Linked DNA regions of Homo sapiens: regions 1, 2, 3, 5 and 6 are each linked to region 4. Evidence: fine-mapped expression QTL. A gene starts in region 4. Each other region holds a variant in brackets. All regions are shown on one strand. Distances are from middle to middle.

The links. PIP is the estimated chance that this variant, and not a neighbour inherited with it, causes the effect.
Region 1: its variant is fine-mapped to the expression of PRKG2 in lung (TOPMed, PIP above 0.99).
Region 2: its variant is fine-mapped to the expression of PRKG2 in thyroid (GTEx, PIP 0.94).
Region 3: its variant is fine-mapped to the expression of PRKG2 in whole blood (TOPMed, PIP 0.98).
Region 5: its variant is fine-mapped to the expression of PRKG2 in esophagus mucosa (GTEx, PIP 0.99).
Region 6: its variant is fine-mapped to the expression of PRKG2 in whole blood (INTERVAL, PIP above 0.99).

The regions. Positions count from the first base shown.
Region 1 is chr4:81,254,745-81,258,836 of GRCh38, reverse strand. No RefSeq gene overlaps it. Among named protein-coding and RNA genes, the nearest start is that of PRKG2, 42 kb to the right of the region's middle. The variant C/A (reference allele first, on the strand shown) is at 1,711.
Region 2 is chr4:81,169,352-81,173,443 of GRCh38, reverse strand. PRKG2 (protein kinase cGMP-dependent 2) reads left to right here. Exons shown (of 19, transcript NM_006259.3): 4 at 1,640-1,753; 5 at 3,676-3,781. The region is part of intron 1 of PRKG2-AS1 (PRKG2 antisense RNA 1); the gene reads right to left. Among named protein-coding and RNA genes, the nearest start is that of PRKG2-AS1, 6.5 kb to the right of the region's middle. The variant G/A (reference allele first, on the strand shown) is at 1,631.
Region 3 is chr4:81,152,252-81,156,343 of GRCh38, reverse strand. PRKG2 (protein kinase cGMP-dependent 2) reads left to right here. Exons shown (of 19, transcript NM_006259.3): 7 at 2,623-2,700. Among named protein-coding and RNA genes, the nearest start is that of PRKG2-AS1, 11 kb to the left of the region's middle. RefSeq lists enhancers at 1,852-2,365, 2,366-2,880. The variant C/A (reference allele first, on the strand shown) is at 2,434.
Region 4 is chr4:81,213,121-81,217,212 of GRCh38, reverse strand. PRKG2 (protein kinase cGMP-dependent 2) reads left to right here and starts at 1,991. Exons shown (of 19, transcript NM_006259.3): 1 at 1,991-2,277. LOC124900726 (a long non-coding RNA gene) reads right to left here and starts at 2,327. Exons shown (of 2, transcript XR_007058162.1): 1 at 2,255-2,327; 2 at 989-1,648. RefSeq lists enhancers at 1,958-2,458, 2,459-2,959.
Region 5 is chr4:81,139,804-81,143,895 of GRCh38, reverse strand. It overlaps PRKG2 (protein kinase cGMP-dependent 2), which reads left to right. Exons shown (of 19, transcript NM_006259.3): 11 at 949-1,102; 12 at 3,227-3,363. Among named protein-coding and RNA genes, the nearest start is that of PRKG2-AS1, 23 kb to the left of the region's middle. The variant A/G (reference allele first, on the strand shown) is at 1,782.
Region 6 is chr4:81,158,550-81,162,641 of GRCh38, reverse strand. All of the region lies in intron 6 of PRKG2 (protein kinase cGMP-dependent 2), which reads left to right. Among named protein-coding and RNA genes, the nearest start is that of PRKG2-AS1, 4.3 kb to the left of the region's middle. The variant T/G (reference allele first, on the strand shown) is at 2,423.

The sequences.
Region 1 (4,092 bases), 42 kb before region 4:
CCTTTTTATGGTTCCTTCCTACTATGAAATGTACAACTGCTAGTGAGAGAAATGCTCAAAATGAAACTTTCCTCTTTACTAATTAATCCACTCTTCAATCTTTATTTAGATACTCAACACACATGTGCGTGAGCATGTGTGCACACACACATACAGACACAGAGTGCCAATTAAGACATGAATTTTCCACTACCTAGAAAGACCTTCATATTTCTTTGATCCTTCAGACTGAGATCAGATGTCTTTTTCTGAAGCATTCCCTGACTCCTTGCCTTAGGGTAGTTAAGCTTTCATAATGTATTGTAATATTTCAGGACTTCAGAAAACTTTGCTTTGTGTAATGGGCCTACAAGACACCCTGAAAATGATGTTGATTAATTATCTTTGTATTTATTTACAGGATGGTTGGTTGTTATTTTCTGCCACTCACAGTCAATTTTCCCTTTTATTTTGATAAGAGCATCTTATTTTCTTCTGGGAAATTTTCCCTCTTCCGTTGTGTGTACTTGATGGGGTTGCCAATCTTGGTGGGGCTGCCAATCAGCCCCACCAAGGGGTAGGCATATGAGCCATGATGGCCAATTGGACTAAAATGGAACTATTTACCTGTTTAAGCAGAAGGGGATTTATTACAGAGAATGGAGTATCCAGTAATTATTTGCAGAAAAAAATAATTGTTATATAACAAGTAACAGTCTGCAAAGAGAACTGTTAACATCAGGAAGCCACGGAAGTGGGAACCACGATGCCAACTTCTGATTGTCGTTGTAATCATTGGTACCAGAAATATGCATGTTAGCTGTGACTGACAGATAAGAAACCATGGCCACAATTGTTGGCCCCAGAGCCATGACATGCCTGCTGGGACTGCACCAACAAAATGGATGACCCATGCCATCCTCTCAATATCTAACAAGTGGCTAGCTACTGGGATTTCAGCTAAAGCTGTTGCAGAAAAATCAACCACCTTGCCATTTATGTTCTGCACCAGAAATTGCAGAAGCAGCACAAATGTGGCCTCCACCTCACTTCTGCCTTTCTGATCTCACATGAACACATGTGACTAGCTGAATATTATTAAGTACCTTCTGGAACACTGTCTGCAAACTAGACTATGGAATATAATGTTTAGCTTTCTGGCCTTAACGATGACTGAAGGGACTCTAGATGAGGGCAGAATGGATATTGAATATCAATCCACTATATAAACAATGGACTATCCCCCCAGGCTCTTGAGCCCAGTGGTTAAAGAGCAGAAGAAAAATGGTTGGAGCCAGTGGGTCCTCTTGCAATATCCTGAAGACTAGCTACCTAGATCCTCCAAATGCCCTGATTCCTGTCCTTTTAGGTTTCTGCTTTTGTAGATTTCCCTTTGGGTCTGGGAGCCCCCACCAGGACCTTATAATTATTTCCCTTTTACCTGTAGTTAGTCAGATTTGAGTTTTGACATTTGTAATCAAACCACCTCAATGGATACATTTAGGAACTTAATTGTCAGTGTTGGCATCCTCAATTCTTGCAGAATGAATTTGGTTGGCCTTAACTCTGCATCTAGAGAGCTGGCTGCTACCGATGTGAATAGCACCCTTGGAATTCTAGTTTCTAGAATCAAAAGTCAAAGAAGTCCTTGGATGTCATCCAATCCAAACTCTACTTTTTTTTTTTTTTTTTGGTTATCAGACACATTCCTTTATTATTGACATAGAAATT[C/A]TTAAGATAGTTCATGTAGACAAAAAGTACAATTATTTTAACAGCATAGAAATACCTTTGAAAGAAGAAAAGGTATATAAACAACTCTTGAAAAAAAATTTTAGATTTTAAATCGTTGCCATTATTAACTAAGAGTTTTATTGTAGAATTCATAGCCAGACTTGTCAAAATCTGTAAATATCTTATAGAAAGTTCTGTGATAAGGAAATTCATACTCAGTGGAAATGCTTTGGGGATTTTTAATGCGGAGATTGATCTTAATTTTTCAAATTACAACAGGCTTATCTATCAAAGCTTAATGAAATACAAACTTTGCGAATGATCCAGCCACAATCTTACATGCTATGCAGATTTCCAAATGCATTCCATGTCCTTCCACAAAAACACTTCCTGATGAATAATGTTTAACTTGGTCTTTTATAGTAGTGGTCCAAAGACTTTGAAAAATATTCTTAAGAAGCTACTACAGGAGCTTCCAATTTAATGAATTTTAACAGCTGTTTCTGCCACTAGGCCTATAAGTGGAACTTGATTTCCCTTGAGTCAATTCCATTAATTTGTTTTTATTATTTTAGGATAGCGAATATGCTTCAGCTGGCTGCGTTCAGAAACTAGAATTGGTGTGGGTGGCACAGCAACTCTGGTTTCAATCAGTCTTCCTCTGAGGGCTTCCCCTGAAGACCACCCAGATGGATGGGTGGTGCAAGAGCAAGCAGGGCCACAGTGTGAGTCGGGGGCACATGGCTCCATTCTGCACTCACGGGTGGGGCATTTCTGCTAAACACTTGGGAGAATTTCTCAGGAGATCAGGGCACTCAACAGTTTTCTGAAGTGGTAGAGCAATATTATTTCCTCTCAGCTTGCAAAGTGCACAGACCATCCCTCGGGTGTTTAAGCCCACACCTGCTGGAATGCACTTGGAATACAAGGTCAAAAGGACAGTGCTCAAAATGCAGCTAGGCTTCAAGGGGACGGAAGGTGACTTCAGATTCTATCTTAGTAAATTAGGGATAATAATATCTGCCCTACCAATTTCTCAGGGCTATTATATGTATAATATACAGATATAAAGACAAATATATTTTAAAAATAAATATTGCTAAGCATTTCAAATAATTTTAGACAGAGGCTAATACTAAGCTTACCTAAAAATGTTGTGCCTTACAGACCATCCCTCTCTCCCTGTGGTGAGGTTGAAGTGAGGTTTATTTTTTCCAATTATTTTATTGCCAAAGGTGAATTTCTAAAGGAGAAAAGTTAGGATATTTCCTTGAGAAATCTGAGCAATTGGGTCAGCACAGATTCTCTGAATTACTTATTTCTGATCATCAGTGCCCTTTGTCATCAGGTCATGGGCTCTATGGGAGTGCTAAGGAAAGAATCAAGTTGTACAATCATCTTGGCTCCACATGGTTTGTATTTGGTTACATCTTTATCATAACAGCTTAGTGCTTGGGTTTGCCTGACTCATAAGCTCAAGCTTTCAGAAGCTGATTACTCTGTAATGGATTGAATTGTAAATGGCATCTCAATGAGTAAAATAACTGTTATTTTCATTTTTATTTCCCCGTATCCAAACCTAATTTTTTTGTTTGATTACTGTTGCTGATTTTTGGTGTAGGCAGAGCTGGAAGATGTGGATGTGGCTAGAGGATTAAAAATATTGTTTTTTCCTGGTTTCAAATATTATATATATTTACTGTAGAAAACATGGAAAAAGCTAACAAATTATGATGAAGTTAATAGAAACATCCAAAAATGTCACCACTCAGAGTCATTCATTTGTAAGATTCTTGTTTAATTTTTTTCTTTTATTTACTATATAACTATATACTTCTTTTTTATTTAAAAAAAGTACTATTCTGTGACCTGTTTTATTGCTTGTGTTAAGCATATTTGTTCATCTGTTAAGTATTTATTGAGTGCTTTCAACTATACATTTCTAAGTCACTACAAGATATTCACCATGGTTCATGTTTTACTAACTTGTGATCAACAAAGGATGGGAGGGATATAGCTTTTTTTTTCTTTTGTATGTGTGTCACTGATTCAGCTCAATCATACATCTGAGTTATCCCTAATTGGGTTTCTAAAGACTCTTAAATTTGAAGAATTCATAAAAATCAGCAGGTATGATCATTGTTTTTGTCAGTGAGTATGTGAGTCACTTTTATATTAATTTTTTTCAACTTAAAGAATGACTAGCCATCACTACTGAGTATGTAAAGAATCTGTAGTACAATAGATAAATACCTCATGGCAACAAACTCTCTTTTCTACAACTTTAATACTTTTAAATCATACAATATTTTTATAAAAAATTATCAGAAAAACCATTATGTCCACTTTTTCCTTTATAGTCAATACATTCAACAAACATTT
Region 2 (4,092 bases), 44 kb after region 4:
TATTTATGAAACCTCCTAGGAGAGGATGAGAAACTGATGTAAGCCTATCTCGTTCCTTCCCAAGTAGTTCTGATGAAAGGCTCAGGGAGAGAAGAGGTTGAACAGAAGTCAGTATCAAAACAGCTATTGAGATCAGAGTTATGGCACACATGGAAATGAAAATTGGATGGTTTCTTATTTGAATTAATTGTAGTGTCACCCAAGGACTGAATTGCCTGGTTTAATTATCTGGTTGAGCAAATTAATTTGATAATTAAAAATATTCCCTTTATGAAACATAGCATGAATAGCAAATAGTAAAAGCATATTTAGCTTTAACTTTTGATATTCCATATAATTCTTCAGCATTGCTCAGGCACAATGAGCCATAACCAATTTCAAGATAAAAACTTGAAATGCATTAAGATTCATGATATCAACTGGACACTACCACTAAGTGGCTTTGATAGAATAGAATTTAGCTAATGAGAAATTTTAAATTGCATGTCTAACCTCTAGGATTTGGAGCCAGAACTGAGTGTTTTTTTTCCTTGCTAGTATAAATTCTATCAGGCTAAGGATATCTTCTCTTTTGTCCTCTCTATGGCTCTGGCACTTGGAACAGTTCCCAGCACAACATAGGTACTCGGATCAGTTTTGCTGAATGAAGGGATGGACAGAGATGATACAGAGCTACTTAGCAGTGAATTAGGAAAAGGAAAGACTAATTCTTTAAGGAAAGGAGATATTACCCCATCACTTTTTTTTCCTCTAAGAACTTAGATCTTTTTTGCTTATGCTTTTAGTTGGTTAAGGTTTTGTTTGTATTTGTTCAAAGCAAAAGAAGAGTAAAGCTGCCAAGGCAAAAAAAGAAAAATAGTGAAGGGGATGCAAACTTCTGCCTCTCCCTTCCTCCAGTCTTTGCCCAGGTAATAAGTGCCAAACACTCTTCTTAGTGATTTTCATTTGTAACTAATATGTATTACATTTAAATAAATTAGAGGTTAGATAACAATTGAGGCACCATGAAGTAACTTGCCCAAGGTCACATAGGCAAAAATGAGTTGAATCAGGACACAGCCAGGCAGTCTGATTCCAGGGCTGATCTACTTACTGGTTATGACGGGTTGTCATTCCATCATTGTGAACAATTTCTCTGTGTTTTTATGACATACAGTGATTGTTGAGCTCCTCATAAAAGAGAAATAGTTTCATGTATTACATTTCTCATAGGTTATAATGAATTTTAAACAAAACACTTGCCATCCACTGCTTCAGGAAAATAACATTGTAAAAATAATAATATTAATAATAGCTAACACACAGCATTTACTATGCACTAGCCATTGTTCTAAATTCCTTACCTAGATTAACTTATTTCATTCTTGCCACTGTAAAATAATAATAATAATTATTATTATCCTCATCGTTGATGAGGAACTTCAGACAGATAGCGTAAGTTTCTCAAGGCAACCCAGCTAATAGTAAGTGGCAGAGGTGATTTCAGTCTACACTTTTAACTGGTGTATTATAATGAGAATCATAAAATATCTTACCTGTATACTTTGTGTGCTTTATGATTGTTTTATTTTACTAATTTATAGTATCTACACGGATTTCGATTATTTGTGTGTGTGTTTTTTAAAATTCT[G/A]CTTGATAGAGGGTCGACTAGAGGTGTTCCAAGGGGAGAAATTGCTGTCCTCCATCCCTATGTGGACCACATTTGGGGAGCTTGCCATTTTATACAATTGTACAAGGACTGCCTCTGTGAAAGGTAATAAAAGAGGAAATGCTCCATCTTTGAATTGTTGTGGCATGTTAAAGATAATCTAGTCCAGTCACATTTGCACCCTGATCCACAGTCTGTTTCCCATTTTACCCTATATGTTCTTATAATAGAAATGCTATGCCTATTAAGGGATTTATACTGAAGCACTTACCTATATAATTTAAGCTAAAAAGAACTTTTCTGGATACCTGTGTATAAAATGTAAAATGGCTTTTAACTATTCACAACGGTAAAGACATGGAATCAATCCAAATGACCATCAGTGATAGACTGGGTAAAGAAAATGTGGTATGTATACATTATGGAATGCTACACAGCCATAAAAAGGAACAAGATTATGTCCTTTGCAGGGACATAGATGGAGCTGGAAGCCATTATCCTCAGCAAACTAACACAGGAACAGAAAAGCAAACACTGCATGTTCTTACTTATAAGTGGGCGTTGGACAATGAGAACACATGGACACAGGGAGGGGAACAACACACACTGGAGCCCAATGGGGAGGGGTGGGGGAGGGAGAGCATCAGGATAAATAGCTGATGTATGCGGGGCTAAATACCTAGGTGTTAAGTTGATAGTTGCAGCAAAGCACCACAGCACACGTTTATCTATGAAACAAACCTGCATGTCTTGCATGTGTATCCTGGAAATTAAAATTAAATTAAATTAAAAATAAAAATAAAAATAAAAAGGTTTGTTCTGCCAAAAACAATGGCTTTAAGCTGACTGATTCCATATTTGCTTTAATTGCCACTTTACTTTTTACTACATAGACACATGCCTTTGGCTCATCTAGAATGTTTGCTTTCTAGCTAGTCTCAACGAGGTTCTGACCATATTATAAGCCAGAGAAATTAATTAAACCAATGAAAATGTATCTATATCAAAAGGAATATGAATTAGAGTAATTAGAGTATTCATGAATGACTTTTGGGATTACTTTACTTGCTTTTCTTTAGATTTGTTTTATTGACTTTATGGCAATCTTGGGTTTCCTTCTGAATTACATAGATATGATGTTTTTCAGTGTTTGGGACTAGTTTATATGTGTTAGCCTTGCTGAGGTATTTGATAAAAATGCAGATTTTGGGTCTCTACTCCCAACCTGAATCAGAGTCTCTGGCAATGGAGCCCAGGGATCTTGTATTTCTAACAAGAATATCAAGATGATTCCAATGTAAAGTTTGGTAATCCAGAGCTTTGGGTTTTGATCAATTTTAGAGGCTTTGTTACTCGTTTTTAAAAAATTGTACAACCACAATTTCATCTAGATTTTTTAGAGCCACCACTTCTGGCCCACTTTCTTTTTAAATTTTATACTTGCCCTTAAGTCTTTACTGTAAAAAAAAATTATCTCAAAAACTTTCTTTCATAGTCTCTTTCAAATAATTTGTAGGCATTTTACACAAAAGTAACTGTAGAGATTCTTAAATAATATGTAGCTTCTTTAGCAACAGTGTCAGAACAACATAAAAAGACACATAAAAACACACACATACACACAGATAGCTTTAACTTTCAATTATCTGTTTGTGACTTCACTCTCCAGATTAGCTACAAATTGACTGCCTTTCTCTTGTATTACAGCAGAAATCTAGAGCACATCCTGATGATCTAGTGCATAATTGGGAATTGCAAACTAATTTGAATATCATCCTAACTGTAACATAATTAGAAAGGAAATTTTTTGCTAGTCATTTCCAAATAATAGTGTATTTCAAAGCCAAAATGATTTATAAAATTGCTCACTATTTATTTTTCTGTCTCCTTCATTTGTATGTTTAAATAATACATTTTCCAAGAAGTACCATTTTATAAGAACATATAACAAATCCATCGATTTATATTTTGGAATGTTTTCACAATGTTGTACTAAGTGTTTTATTGTTTTCTTGAATTTTCTAAAGCTATTACCAATGTTAAAACATGGGCACTAGATCGAGAGGTATTCCAGAATATAATGAGGAGGACAGCCCAAGCTAGAGATGAACAATACAGAAACTTCCTCAGAAGGTAAGAATAATACATTGGGAGACAGTGAAGACAGTGGAGTCGCCATATTGTGAATATATTGGTTTTATCAGAATAATTATTCAACTATAGCTACTTCCATTTAAGCATTTTCCACATGACTAAACCAAAGGAACATTGCTTGCAGTAAATGCCAGTACATACCAAAAACTGTATTTAATTTCTATTATCCTTGTATACTCATTTATTTCTCCTGCTAGTTTTTGCCCTTGTATTGATAGAGTGATAGTGCACAGCATAGAAAAATGTGCAAAAAACCTAAATTATTAATTGGGTTGCTCAGTTGGCTTTGA
Region 3 (4,092 bases), 61 kb after region 4:
AATAATGGCCTTCTTTGTCTCTTTTGATCTTTGTCGGTTTAAAGTCTGTTTTATCAGAGACTAGGATTGCAACCCCTGCCTTTTTTTGTTTTCCATTTGCTTGGTAGATCTTCCTCCATCCTTTTATTTTGAGCCTATGTGTGTCTCTGCCTGTGAGATGGGTTTCCTGAATACAGCACACTAATGGGTCTTGACTCTTTATCCAATTTGCCAGTCTGTGTCTTTTAATTGGAGCATTTAGTCCATTTACGTTTAAAGTTAACATTGTTATGTGTGAATTTGATCCTGTCATTATGATGTTAGCTGGTTATTTTGCTCGTTAGTTGATACAGTTTCTTCCTAGTCTCGATGGTCTTTACATTTTGGCATGATTTTGCAGTGGCTGGTACCGGTTGTTCCTTTCCATGTTTAGTGCTTCCTTCAGGAGCTCTTTTAGGGCAGGCCTGGTGGTGATGAAATCTCTCAGCATTTGCTTGTCTGTAAAGGATTTTATTTCTCCTTCACTTATGAAGCTTAGTTTGGCTGGATATGAAATTCTGGGTTGAAAATTCTTTTCTTTAAGAATGTTGAATATTGGCCCCCACTCTCTTCTGGCTTGTAGAGTTTCTGCCGAGAGATCTGCTGTTAGTCTGATGGGCTTCCCTTTGAGGGTAACCCGACCTTTCTCTCTGGCTGCCCTTAACATTTTTTCCTTCATTTCAACTTTGGTGAATCTGACAATTATGTGTCTTGGTGTTGCTCTTCTCGAGGAGTATCTTTGTGGCGTTCTCTGTATTTCCTGAATCTGAATGTTGGCCTGCCTTGCTAGATTGGGGAAGTTCTCCTGGATAATATCCTGCAGAGTGTTTTCCAACTTGGTTCCGTTCTCCCCATCACTTTCAGGTACACCAATCAGACGTAGATTTGGTCTTTTCACATAGTCCCATATTTCTTGGAGGCTTTGCTCGTTTCTTTTTATCTTTTTTCTCTAAACTTCCCTTCTCGCTTCATTTCATTCATTTCATCTTCCATTGCTGATACCCTTTCTTCCAGCTGATCGCATCGGCTCCTGAGGCTTCTGCATTCTTCACGTAGTTCTCGAGCCTTGGTTTTCAGCTCCATCAGCTCCTTTAAGCACTTTTCTGTATTGGTTATCCTAGTTATACATTCTTCTTTTTTTTTTTTTTGAGACGGAGTCTCGCTCTGTCGCCCAGGCTGGAGTGCAGTGGCGGGATCTCGGCTCACTGCAAGCTCCGCCTCCCGGGTTCACGCCATTCTCCTGCCTCAGCCTCCCAAGTAGCTGGGACTACAGGCGCCCGCCACTACGCCCGGCTAATTTTTTTTTTGTATTTTTAGTAGAGACGGGGTTTCACCGTGTTAGCCGGGATGGTCTCGATCTCCTGACCTCGTGATCTGCCCGCCTCGGCCTCCCAAAGTGCTGGGATTACAGGCGTGAGCCACCGCGCCCGGCCTATACATTCTTCTAAATTTTTTTCAAAGTTTTCAACTTCTTTGCCTTTGGTTTAAATGTCCTCCCGTAGCTCAGAGTAATTTGATCGTCTGAAGCCTTCTTCTCGCAGCTCGTCAAAGTCATTCTCCGTCCAGCTTTGTTCTGTTGCTAGTGAGGAACTGCGTTCCTTTGGAGGAGGAGAGGCGCTCTGCTTTTTAGAGTTTCTAGTTTTTCTGCTCTGTTTTTTCCCCATCTTTGTGGTTTTATGTACTTTTGGTCTTTGATGATGGTGATGTACAGATGGGTTTTTGCTGTGGATGTCCTTTCTGTTTGTTAGTTTTCCTTCTAACAGACAGGACCCTCAGCTGCAGGTCTGTTGGAGTACCCTGCCGTGTGAGGTGTCAGTGTGCCCCTGCTGGGGGGTGCCTCCCAGTTAGGCTGCTCGGGGGTCAGGGTCAGGGACCCACTTGAGGAGGCAGTCTGCCCGTTCTCAGATCTCCAGCTGCGTGCTGGGAGAACCACTGCTCTCTTCAAAGCTGTCAGACAGGGACATTTAAATCTGCAGAGGTTACTGCTGTCTTTTTGTTTGTCTGTGCCCTGCCCCCAGAGGTGGAGCCTACAGAGGCAGGCAGGCCTCCTTGAGCTGTGGCGGGCTCCACCCAGTTTGAGCTTCCTGGCTGCTTTGTTTACCTAAGCAAGCCTGGGCAATGGCGGGCGCCCCTCCCCGAGCCTCGCTGCTGCCTTGCAGTTTGATCTCAGACTGCTGTGCTAGCAATCAGCAAGACTCCGTGGGCGTAGGACCCTCCGAGCCAGGTGCGGGGATATAATCTCGTGGTGCGCCGTTTTTTTAAGGCCGTCCCAAAAGCGCGATATTCGGGTGAGAGTGACCCGATTTTCCAGGTGCTGTCCATCACCCCTTTCTTTGACTAGGAAAGGGAACTCCCTGACCCCTTGTGCTTGCTGAGTGAGGCAATGCCTCGCCCTGCTTCGGCTCGCGCACGGTG[C/A]GCGCACCCACTGACCTGTGCCCACTGTCTGGCACTCCCTAGTGAGATGAACCCGGTACCTCAGATGGAAATACAGAAATCACCCGTCTTCTGCGCCGCTCACGCTGGGAGCTGTATACTGGAGCTGTTCCTATTAGGCCATCTTGGCTCCACCCGCTCTTACATTTTCTTTCTCTCTCATCCCAACAGGAATACTATGACAAAGGAGATTACATCATTAGAGAGGGCGAGGAAGGAAGTACCTTTTTCATTTTGGCAAAAGGAAAGGTAACTATTAATTAAAACTTACTAAATAAAAAAGATTATTTTAAATCAGTTTGCCATAAACTCAACTATGCTTTGCATTGCAACATAGGTCCTCCACTTTGGACAGATAAAGGAGCTTCTACCAGTAGAGTCCCATGCAATTCTGTTTGAACACTGGCTTTGGAGTGGAGGCCACAGGACCCCCTAAGAAATAATAACTTCTTAGTGATGTTATGTAGGTCACTTGATTTTTTGGGGAGAGACCTAGCTTAATTGTATATGAGATGGCTGGATTATTTATAAGGTCCCTTCTGGCTATGACTATGTGATTCTCAATCATCCCCAGATTCCAAGATCAGTACTAGAATATTTTCTTATCCAATAGATATGACAAGTAGCAGGTGGAGAATGAATTCAGCAATTGAAGACAGTCATGATTAGGTATCAGGCTTATAGAACCAATATGGCTCAGAATTTCAATTGATACAAAACAGCTCAAGTGAATTTAGATGCTGATGCAAAATTTATACTAACATGTACAATAAGTCTTTTTCTTTACCTAGATATTGAATGGATAACATGTTGCCAGTTGTTCCAATGTTGACTCAACAGTATTACTCAGAGATGAAAAGCATTTGTGAAATATTGAAGGGAAGGGCCAATTCTTGAGCACCTGTGTGTATAAACTGTCAGATTTTTACATATGTTATATGGAAGGGTTTACCATCAGGGAGTCAGGCACTGCCATTTGTAAACTGGATTGTGGTTGAACTTTGAATTTGGCCCCAAGTGAAGGAAAAACATGAACAAAATAGTTTCAAACCTCTGAAACTCTTCAACACTAGGAACTACTTCTTGTCATTTTTTCCCAACCTAGACCCCATACTTTGAAATAATTCTTGGTGATAAAAAATTGCATTTTTTATTTTTAAAATTTTAATTCATTGTGACATACATAAATGCCAAACAGAATTTCTATTCAGCCTGAATCAGCACTTGTTACCATGTTGAATTGGAATAACTCTAGCCACAAACAGGGCTTTTTCTGTTTGGCCCTGCTGGGTGGGGGGTTCTTAAGCCTTTCTGGGCAACAGATTGCTTTGAGATGCCCATGAAAGTTGTAGACCCTTCTTCAATCAACATTTTGCATTCAGTTTTAGGAGGTGCACAGGATTCGGCCAGTCAATCTATTGATACCAGACTCAGAACTACTGATACTCAACCTTATTTTTGATTAATTTGTCAACTATATTAGGCTTTTTAAAATAGAAAAAGTTCCCACAAGACCATTATTATTTGCTTTGTGGATCTCTCAGAAGGAATCACTGGATTCACATTTAAAATTTAACTTTAGGAGGTGGAGTTTAGATGGTGAATTTTCCTCTTACAGTGGGTAGTTATTTGATAATATTA
Region 4 (4,092 bases):
CCATTAATTAGCAACCCATTGTTTAAAAAAGCCCAGGACTCAATGAAATGTAAGGACTTTGCAGCATTATTCACAATAGCAAAATCATGGAGTCAACCTACGTGTCCATTAAGGGGTGATTGGATTTATAAATGTGGTTTTATATTATATATATACACATATATATATATATATATATATACAAAATATATACACACACACTATGGTGGTATACACACACATACACTGTGTACCTATCACCTGAAAAACTGGGAAAATTTTTTTTTGATTCAGGGGTACTACACACACACACACACACACACACACACACACACACACACAATGGAATACTACCCAGCCACAAAAACAATGAAATCATATCTTTTGCAGCAACATGGATGGAACTAGAGGCCATTATCCTAAGTGAAATTACTCAGAAACAAAGTCAAAAACTGCAGAATCTCTTATAAGTGGCAGCTAAACAATGGGCAGGCATGAGTATCCAGAATGGAATAACAGACACTGGGGACTCCAATAGGTGGGAGGGTGGGAGGTGGGTGAGGTAGGAATTACAACTTATTAGGTACAGTGCACATTATTAGGGTAATAGGTGCGCTAAAAGCCCAGACCTCACCACTATGTGTTATGTCCGTGTAATGCGACTGCACTTGTACCCCTGAATCTGAAATTTTTTTTTAAAGTGAAGACTTTGAAAATCTGTTTTTCTCCTTTTTGTCATTAAATCGCTAATAAAAATTCAGCCCATCAACTTAAAAGTCCATTATTACAGTGACATACAATTACTTATTTTCTCTTTTCTTGTGGAATTCTTCCTCACTCCTTTCTCCTCTAATTTTTTTTTTTTTGAGGTCTTTATAAAATGTACAGACTCTGGGATAGCTTCATGAAAAGGTACTTTGTGTACTTTCGCGATTTTCCTCCAGTTAGCACAAAAACAAACAGGACTATATTCCTCCTCCTCTGAAACTTAATGGTCTCATTCAACATATTTTACATGGGCCTCATTTTTAATATAAGTTTATGTATGTAACAGTGTATACAAATGTTACATGAGCCCCACTGCCACCATGTGGTTTAAAAACCCAAGAGAGTTGGTTGTAACATTCTCTAGATGCACAGTGAGGAATAGACCCTCACTATACTTTCCATCTCTCAACACAGAAACTGCCCTTGTCCTCCGTGAATTTGCTGGTGAAATTCCTCTGGGGGCAGAAGGAAAGGGAAAAAGCCACATGGAGATCTCACAACTCCAGAGCACAGCAAATAATGCGGTGGGGTGTACATATATATTTAGGAAACCATATTGCACCCTTCAGGAAAAAAAAATGTACTCAAAAGGTGACGAGAGAGCATTATCTTCTTGGGTGATCAAGAAAGCTCCCTTCCCAAAGACCTGCAGATTCGGAAGGTATAATCTCTGTCCCTCGAAACTCGATTCAACCCCTGCCCCCAGCATCACGTGAACTGGCAAACTAGATGTAAGTTATGGCCCCAGAGTCCGGGAGGGGCGCGTCGACGAGCTGCTTCGGGGTCACATGTCTTCGTAGAAAGGCATTGGTGTGACAGAGGAGGGCATGTCCAGGGTACGTGCGCCTGTTTGAGCTCTGGGAGGGAAGGCGAAGTGGAGAGAGCCTGCAGTGAAAACAGACTGGAAGGATGGAGGAAAGGGAGGGGAAGGAAAAAATGAACACCTCCCTGAACTTTCCTCTCCCCTCGTCCCACACACTTGAAATAGAAATAATAACATGAACAAAAATGCTTACAACCACGATGTTATCGCCCTACTTAAGTTGCCTCACTATGGAGGGTATGGGGTATAAAGTGCAGACTGCGGCTGTGTCGGGAGTAAAGGTTCGGGCTAGTGTGCGTGCGGGCGCGGGTGACCCCACCTTTAGGGAAGCCGGCGCCCAACTATCCAGGCAGTAGCCCCGGCTGACCCCCTCCCTCCTCCTTCCCTCCTCTCTTCCCTCCCTCCCTGCGTGTCTCCTCTGCACCGGCCCCCGCCGCGGAGCCAGGCGGCAGCACCGACGCCGCCGCAGCTCCTGCCCGCATCGCGCTAACCCGCGCCCCCGGCTCACACGTAGCCGGAGCGACTGAGCCGGCAGCCCCGGGCCCACGCTGCGCACCGTGTGCACGGCGGGGCTGGCTGAGCTGACCTGCGCTGGGCTCCGGCGCCGCAGGCGGCTGGGGAGGGCGGCGTGGGAGAGGACGCTGAGACGCAGGGGCGGCCGCGCCGAGGTGACAAGCTGCGCACCTGGAAAGTTACCCGGCTGTCTGGTGAGGTTCGTGGGCCGGGGGTCTTGGGCGCCGGGGTGTGAGGGCGCGCGGGGAGGGACGGGGTCGGGGTGCGCGCGTGTGCATGCTGTGAATGCGTTGCGCGATGTGCGCCTCTATTCCACACCCAGCCGGTCTCTTGCTTGTGCTGTTCGAGTGTGGACGTGTGTACGCGTTGCATTCGCTCGGTGTGGCAGCGTTTCGTGAGCTCCTGGAGGCAGGGAAAGGCTACTTGTGTTTAGAGGTTCTGTTGAGGGCGGGAGGGGCTCAGCCCCAGTGGGGAGTCCTCAGGGTTCTCTAGGTTTAGCGAGGAGAAGCGGTGGAGGCTGTTGCTCCGAGCTAGGGGCTTGGCGGTGCTGTCAGGGCTTGCGCTCCCGGCTTTGCTTCGTCGAGCTCTGGGTAGTTGCTAGGGGACAGTCCTCAGGCAAGGACTTTTAGGAGTCCTGGTAAACTTGTGTGGGTGTCCTTTTGTCACTCTGGGCACCGTGAGGCGCTTTCATATTTCTGTATTTCTCGGTGATGAAGAAACAAGAGCAAACAAAGCCCAGAAACCAGCCACTTTGGGGATGAGAAAAAAAGAAATAGGTTCAGTTCTGAGAAGAACTACGGTGCAACTACGAAGCAGCTGAGGCCAGAGCTGACAATAAAAGCAACGCATGCAGAATTAGTAGGTAGGAAGGGTGACGCTGGGACAAATGCCTTGATTTCCTGATCTTCATCTTGTTCCCCAAGTTCCCAGGGGCTTTTTCCTTCTTCTTCTTCTCCTTCTTTTTTTTTTTTTTTTTAAGGAAGAGAGCAACATACACCTGCCCCCACCCCACCACACCCCCATATTTAGAGTTTCTTAGAAATTGTCTCTTTTCTTTGCAAGTTTCTATTTAACTCATGAAGAAGGCGATCATCCCACATAACATACACTAGCTGTTTTCAGTACTCCTGTTTAGTTTTGCACAGGAGGGTATGAGCTAATATGGTAGAGAATTCTCTATGGAGAATTAGAGTGCATCCTCTCCGTTGGAACGCTGTATGACTAAGAATAAACGACCTGAAAAGATGATGCCCAGGGATCTTTCTCTTTTACGTGAAATCCTTAACTCCAGTTCTATGAAGTCATTACAAGTGAGGCTAATGAGAATTCACCTCACAGTGAAGGCATATGTTGCCTGGCTGTTGCCCAAGTCCTGTGATCCCTTATTGTCTTGCTTCCTCTAGGCTATTTTTCCTATGAATTATCTCTTCTTCTCCCATGTTTTCGTTTTTCATATCTCCTGTGCTTCATTATCCTGGAGCTACAGACATTTTCAAATTTTCATTATTTTAAAAATCCCTCACATGAATCATGATATCGTCTTGCAGGCTCTACTCTTAGTGTCAGCTCTTTCCATGGTCCCTTGTAGTTGAGTGTCTATCCCCACTCTTTGACAAATCAGATTCAGCACTTTTCTCTCTGATCTCATTTGCTGTGACAGGCCTGTGGGATGTGAGGTACAGCCTGCTCACCTCTTAAGGATCTTATCTGCATGGCCTTTCTGATGCTTCTCCTAAATCTCTTATTGGTACACGTGTTCCTTCTCCTTTGTGGTTTGCTTCTCCTCCTCTTCTCCCACAAATAATATCCACAGATATTACCTATATGTTCATAGGTAACAATAGAGACATTCCTTTCTTACCTCCCTTAGTGATCTCATCTACAAATGGTACTTCAAGTCTTCTATGGAGCAATCTCTTCCCTTGAGTTTTCTTTTTTGCTTCTACCTGCTAGACATTTGCATCATGATGACCCACAAGCATCTCAAACTCAATATATGTAAATCCAGA
Region 5 (4,092 bases), 73 kb after region 4:
GGTTATAGTTAGAATTTTTTCAAAATGTAAGGAATCTATTGCCCAGGGATATGTGGAGGAGGGGGTTGGGTAGGTCTCTAAATGTAGTAATAGTGATTAATTTTTTGTGTGTACTAGAAAACTCTACTTTTGTTAAATGAAAATTATTTGAAAGTTGTTTGCTGAAACATTTTTTTAGAGTGAATGCTTAAGCACATGTTCACTAGATAGTGCTATCAAAGCCATATAGTCAAAATTCTTAGAAAACTTAAATTTGAATTAAATTAGAATATTCAATCAGTACTTCATATGTTTTTGCAATTTTTACGCTGAAGGCCTTTTGTGGTAATAATTTATGAATATGTAACCCAGACCGGTAAACCTTAATTAAAAGAGAAAAAAATGGATATTACTTAGACATAAAGTAAGAAATGTACTTTTCATATTTCACAAAGCAGTTATTTTGGTTCAGCCATGCAAAGCTTCAAGATCTGATAAAACTAGCAAAACGTGGGAAAGATTGTCAATGTGGCATTCTCCTGTACATGCAGCAAAGGAAGTGGCTTCCTTGTTTCATTCCCATTCATTGACTGCTTTTCATGGTTGTTTTTTAACAGCTTTTTTGAGGTATATATATTTTTAGTTAAAAAAAATTTCCACACTGAGAAGAAACCTAAGAGGTACATTTTAAGTACCACAAACTATACCCATTTTACCTCTCATTGATTCAACTTGGCATTCGTCTATTTCCTGGTATATGCATATGTGTGAGTTTTATGTTTGTATATTCTATTGTTTTCTCGCTGCGTGGGACTGAATCTGATCCATAAAAGTTGGGATAGCCTTTGTGGCAACTATAAATCATAGTTACAGCAGAAATTAGACTGTCGTAGGAGTGAAATTTATGTATGGCATGACACCTTCTTAATTATGGGTGTGTGTGTGTAAAGTTTCACTTCTCTTGTACAGGCGGTCCATGTCTAACTGGAAGCTGTCCAAAGCACTCTCTCTGGAAATGATTCAGCTGAAGGAGAAGGTGGCCAGATTTTCCTCATCATCCCCATTCCAGAACCTTGAGATTATTGCAACACTGGGCGTTGGTGGGTTCGGAAGAGTTGAGCTTGTAAGGGGTTTACGTTTCAAGCATCTGAGAGAAGCCTTTTGACTTTTTTTTTGTTTTATATTCCAGCATATCTTGGAGGAATATATGAATTGTTACTGCTATCTTAAATGTTGCTTTGAACTGAAATTGAGAAAGTAAACTTTTCACTCTGTATATTGTATAGTAGCAGGTCTGTGCTAGTAAGTAACTTGTAATAATCAACTGCTAGTTCAAGCTTACATCACGTCTTTTGTGAATTTTCTTCTCGATGATTATCAATATACTAAGTAAGCACGTCCAAAAGGAAACATAAAATAATGTATTTTCTAACAGCAAATGCGTGTCTATATACATTCATGACACATTTAGTCTCTATACACTAAAGAAAAGAAGAATGTGTCAAGTGAAAATGCCATAGAGGTGAAATATTCAATGTTATAGTTGTGTTCTTTAAACAACTCCAGTACCATGTCTGTATTTCACCTTCATTATTTTGTTTTTGGGTTGCTCAAAATTTCGTATTGTGAGAAAAGAAAAGAAGATGAATGAAAGGGAATATTTGAAGAGAAGCCTTCTGTAGTGTTGATCAGGATATCTGGGAACTTACAGCCTGATTTTAGTTGTGCCTTCCACATCACCCTCTTTCTGAGCTATCAGCTTCCAAGGAGTAGCAAAAGTGGTACTGTCAAACAAGTATTCT[A/G]AGGAAAATGTGGAATAGAGATCTGTGGCCTTACTGGGTACAGATGGCTCTGAGGCCTTGGCAATTACCGAGTCCTTCTTTGCCCATCAGATTTTTAAGGATTCACCATACCTTATCTTCTGGGAACTCTGCTGACCTGTTGGTCTGCTGGCTGGCTTTGGGCATGAGCAGATTTGAAATGCTGTCAGGGGAGTCTGGACAGTACACTTCAGACCCAGTCCTTGCTTCATCTCTGATGGGGGCAGGGACAGATGTTCCTTAGGATAAATAATGTGTGTAATGTCTCTTATACCTTATGGAGAGATAAAGATAATACCTGTCTGCAGTGGTATTTTTCGTCAAAGTTTGTGGCAAAAGGATTCAATTAACAAAGCTGAGATCTGTTTTCTAATAATAATTGAAGCAGTAAATCCACCATTGATTTAAAAGTCATGGGCAGCACTAATGGCAAACATGAGCAAAATATGGAGTGCAGCCATTTCTGCACAATGTAGTTACTTATCTAGCATAGTCTGCTTATGGAGTTTTAAATCTATCAAAAAATTATTTTAAAATGTTTATTTCCTTTTTAGGAAATACTTGATCGTGCATCTAGAGTAGTACTGTTTAATAGAACTGTGCTGAGGGAAATGTCTTATATCTGTGCTATTTAATAGGGTAGCCACTAACTAGATATGACTGTTGAGCCTTTGAAAAGTGGCTAGTATAACTCAGGAACTGAATTTTTAATTTTATTTAATTTAAATTTACATAACCTCATGTGATTTGCAGTTACCATATTGGATGGTACAGATATAGAGCTTAGGCTGGGTGCGGTGGCTCATGCTTATAATCCCAGCACTTTGGGAAGCCAAGGTGGAAGGATTGCTTGGGCTCAGGAGTTTGAAATTAGCCTGAGCAACATAGTGAGGCCCCACCTTTATAAAAAATACAAAAATTAGCTGGGTGTGGTGGTTTATACCTGTAGTCCCAGCTACTCAGGAAGCTGAGATGGGAGGATAGCTTGAGCCCAGGAGGTCAAGGCTGCAATGAGCCCTGATTGCACCACTGCATTCTGGGCGACAGAGTGAGACCCTGTCTTAAAATAATAATAATAATAATAATAAATCTTGCTTTGAAAGCAAAGTGAATAATAAAAAAAGGCAATTCTAGTCAAAGTTTTTAATGTCACCCAATTAAAAATAGAATAGCTATCTAAATATTAAGTCTAACAGAATTTTATTTTGCTTTAATACAAAAATTTTAGAGCCACATCCCAGATAGATGAACTATTCTAGAAATAGTGATGAAAGGGAAGTGTGTACACTTGAATGAAAGTTCTCAAAGGGATAAGTGGCTAAGGGCTTCCATACTAATTAAACATGAAACAGTTTTAACTCTCATTGATTAGTGTGTTTTATATAGATATAAGTTAATTTTGAGGTATCTTTCCATTTCTTACATAGGTTAAAGTAAAAAATGAGAATGTTGCTTTTGCTATGAAGTGTATAAGGAAGAAGCACATAGTTGACACCAAGCAGCAGGAGCATGTCTACTCAGAGAAGAGGATCCTAGAGGAGCTGTGCTCTCCATTCATTGTGAAGTAAGTGACCACTTGGCTTCCAAGGAGTTAGGATTTTCAGGCTCTTTATTTATGTATTTACTTAAATTATTTTTATTTTTATTTTTAATTTTTGTGGGTACATAGTAGGCATATATATTTATGGGGTACATGAAATGTTTTGATACAGGCATGCAATGCATAATTACAGCATGGAAAATGGGGTATCCATCCCCTTGAGCATTTATCCTTTGTGTTACAAACAATCTACTTATACTATTTTAGTTATTTTACAATGTCCAATTAAATTGTTACTATGATGCCCCTGTTGTGCTATCAATTGCTAGATCTTATTCTTTCTTTCTATTTTATTTTGTACCCATTAACCATCTCCCCTTCCTGCATGTCTCCCCACTACCTTTCCCAGGCTCTGGTAACCACTCCTCTATTCTCTATCTCCATGAATTCAATTGCTTTGATTTCTAGATCCCACAAATAAGTGAGAACGTGTGATGTTTGTCTTTCTCTGTCTGGCTTATTTCACATAACATAACGACCTCCAGTTCCATCCATGTTGTTACAAATGACAGAATCTCATTTTTTTTGTATGGTTGAGTAGTACTCGGCTCTTGTTTTAAACTTTCCATGCAAGATGACAGAAAGAAGAGGTGGAGGAGGCCCCACTCTGGATTCTCCAACCCAGTCACAGCAACAGTACTAAAAATGTTAGAAGTTTGAGATCTGGGGTCAGATGTTTTCCAGTTGTTTTGA
Region 6 (4,092 bases), 55 kb after region 4:
TAAGCAAACTATGAGGCAAAGACACGCCAAATATCATTGCTTAAATAAAACAGAAGTTTGTCACTCGTTAACATAACTGTCCAGGAAAGATAGTCCCAATTGGCTCCACACAGTCATTTGGGAATCCAAGCTGATGTCTACTCTGCCATTTTCAACATGTGGTTTTCCAGGTTTGTGTGGGCCATGCCATTATAATTGGGGAAAAAGTATAAAGACACATGCATGAAAGCATGCATGGGCTTGGTGTGGAATTGTCACAGATCACTTCCACTCAGATTATTTTAGATAAAAGTTCATCACATGGCCATAGCTAACAGCAGGAAGGCTGGCAAGTGTAACTTACCTGGACAATCATATATTCCTCTGGAAGACTTTCGTGACCAGCTTACAGCCTCTTTCGTAAGATTAACAGTCACCGGGTACCTGGTGTGCACTAAACATTCCATCAGGTACTTTAGATACACCGTCTTAACTAGTCCTCAAACAACATTAGGTGTAGTAGTAAATATAATCTTAATTTTACAGAAAATGAAACAGAGGTCCAGAAGATGTAGGAAACAGCTGAGCAAATCATTATCATCCTCCTTCTTAGCATGGCAACAATTAATTGTGCATTTACTATATTTTAGATGCTCCTACTATTTCAGGCAACATTGCCTTTCATTGGCTTATTGTGGTAGGCAGAATGGTCCCCTGCCCCACCCCCCCTTCCAGATATCCAGATTCTAATCCCTGGAATGTATGAATATGTTATATTACATGGCAAAAGGGACTTTAATGGTATGCTTAAAGTTTGGGACTTTAAAATAGATTATCATTAATTGGCTAGGTGAATGAACTATTGAATATAGTTGCATGAGCATAGAATTATTTCTGGTTGGGGTCAGAGAGATGCAGCAGAAGTGAAATCCAGAGAGACTCTGAGGGTAAGAAATGAACATGCCATCACTGGTTCTGAGATGGAGGGGGCTCTCTGCAGGGATGGGAGAGACCTCATGAGCAGTTCCCACTGTCAGTCAGTAAGGAAATGGGATCTTATCCTGCAGGTGAATCCTTCCAGCAACCTGAATGACCTTGAAAATGAATTTTCCCCTGAGCTTCCAGAATGACATAAGCCCTATTGATACCTTGAGCTCCATCCTGAGAGACCCTAACTGAGAAACCTAATTGAGCAACACTGTGCCTAGGCTTTCTGACTCACGGAAACTGTAAATAATAAAAGGATGTGGCTCTAAGCCACCAAGTTTTTGGTTGTTACAGCAGCAATAGAGAACTAATGCGCTTTCCTAAATCTTTGAAGATATGGGTTGTTACTTTAATTTTATGGGTTGAGGAAAGTAAATTTCTTGTAAACTGGGATTTGAATATAGACCTGTCTGGCTTCAAAGAACTTTTTAACTCCAAAAATATTATGCTTCCTTCCATGAGATATTGACATATCTTATAAAATGTACATAGTGTTATGAAAATAAAACGCATGTTTGTTAGTATTAGGAGTAACATTTATTCCAGAAAAGTAAATAGGTTTTAAGAATAAATGATCAAGAAAGTATTGAAAAACAACAGATAAAAAAGTAGTTTAGTTTGGAATTTATTTTCAAGTCTAAAAGAAAAACAAGAGAGAGCAATTATGTGGTTAGTTATGCCTTTTTAAAAATTAAAGAAGCCACTTTTGTTTGTATAAATAATTAAGAGATCCATCTTAGTTCTGTGACTTTAAGACAAGATCAAATTAAAGCAAAGTAGAGGTGGACAGTTTAATCTATCCTTTGTTTTCTGAGATATTTAGTCGCTCTTTTGGTCTGACAGGTGGATAGATTACTTTTCCCTCCTCAAGAATTTTCTAATCACATAAATATTTACAAGAGAAACAGATGTTAATAAATAAAAAGAAATATGCAATAATTTAAGATTTCATGAGGATAGATCTAAATTAAATAATAGAATTTACACATAAAAATTTCCAATGTCAATGTTTTATGATGACAAATCTTTGGATATTGCATTATGACAGCACTACCTACTGTGAATGTAGAATCTTCCAAGAGGTTGCTTTTCAAGGAATTAGAAATTAAGGGTAATTTTCCTAATATCCATTGGGGATATTATATAATCACTTGTTCTTTTTCTAGAGCCCAGACTCAATTTTTAGAATGTTGCTGATCACCAAACAGTTTATATTTAGATTATGCAGGTGAAAGCTGGTGATTGTTGCCTGGCTCTCATTTCTCTTTATATCTTTGGACCCCATGCCTGAAATTCAGTATTCCAGGTGAATTTACTCTGTGAAAGAAGAAAACATAAGTGCAGATAATAAAGCAAAAGTCTCCTTACTTTTCTACAGTTTATGACTGCAATGTAAGAAAAGCTTACAGTTTCAATAGGCAAAAACAACAACCAAACAAATGCTAAAACAGGTGTG[T/G]AATACTCATTTCAAAGACAAAAGGAGTTCTGCTTTCTTTATGTCTTCAATTATGTGTCTCCACTTGATCTTACATTATCTTTTTATTTATTTATTTATTTTTTATTATTATTATACTTTAAGTTTTAGGGTACATGTGCACAATGTGCAGGTCAGTTACATATGTATACATGTGCCATGCTGGTGCGCTGCACCCACTAATTCGTCATCTAGCATTAGGTATATCTCCCAATGCTCTCCCTCCCCCCTCCCCCCACCCCACAATGGTCCCCAGAGTGTGATGTTCCCCTTCCTGTGTCCATGTGTTCTCATTGTTCAATTCCCATCTATGAGTGAGAATATGCGGTGTTTAGTTTTTTGTTCTTGCAATAGTTTACTGAGAATGATGATTTCCAATTTCATCCATGTCCCTACAAAGGACATGAACTCATCATTTTTTATGGCTGCATAGTATTCCATGGTGTATATGTGCCACATTTTCTTAATCCAGTCTATCATTGTTGGACATTTGGGTTGGTTCTAAGTCTTTGCTATTGTGAATAGTGCCACAATAAACATACGTGTGCATGTGTCTTTATAGCAGCATGATTTATAGTCCTTTGGGTATATACACAGTAATAGGATGGCTGGGTCAAATGGTATTTCTAGTTCTAGATCCCTGAGGAATCGCCACACTGACTTCCACAATGGTTGAACTAGTTTACAGTCCCACCAACAGTGTAAAAGTGTTCCTATTTCTCCACATCCTCTCCAGCACCTGTTGTTTCTTGACTTTTTAATGATTGCCATTCTAACTGGTGTGAAATGGTATCTCATTGTGGTTTTGATTTGCATTTCTCTGATGGCCAGTGATGATGAGCATTTTTTCATGTGTCTTTTGGCTGCATAAATGTCTTCTTTTGAGAAGTGTCTGTTCATATCCGTTGCCCACTTTTTGATGGGGTTGTTTTTTTTTCTTGTAAATTTGTTTGAGTTCATTGTAGATTCTGGAAATTAGCCCTGTGTCAGATGAGTAGGTTGCAAAAATTTTCTCCCATTTTGTAGGTTGCCTGTTCACCCTGATGGTAGTTTCTTTTGCTATGCAGAAGCTCTTTAGTTGAATTAGATCCCATTTGTCAATTTTGGCTTTTGTTGCCATTGCTTTTGGTGTTTTAGACATGAAGTCCTTGCCCATGCCTATGTCCCGAATGGTAATGCCTAGGTTTTCTTCTAGGGTTTTTATGGTTTTAGGTCTAACGTTTAAGTCTTTAATCCATCTTGAATTGATTTTTGTATAAGGTGTAAGGAAGGGATTAAGGAAGGGATCCAGTTTCAGCTTTCTACATATGGCTAGCCAGTTTTCCCAGCACCATTTAGTAAATAGGGAATCCTTTCCCCATTGCTTGTTTTTCTCAGGTTTCTCAAAGATCAGATGGTTGTAGATATGTGACGTTATTTCTGAGGGCTCTATTCTGTTCCATTGATCTATATCTCTGTTTTGGTACCAGCACCATGCTGTTTTGGTTACTATAGCCTTGTAGTATAGTTTGAAGTCAGGTAGTGTGATGCCTCCAGCTTTGTTCTTTTGGCTCAGGATTGACTTGGTGATGCGGGCTCTTTTTTGGTTCCATATGAAGTTTAAAGTAGTTTTTTCCAAATCTGTGAAGAAAGTCATTGGTAGCTTGATGGGG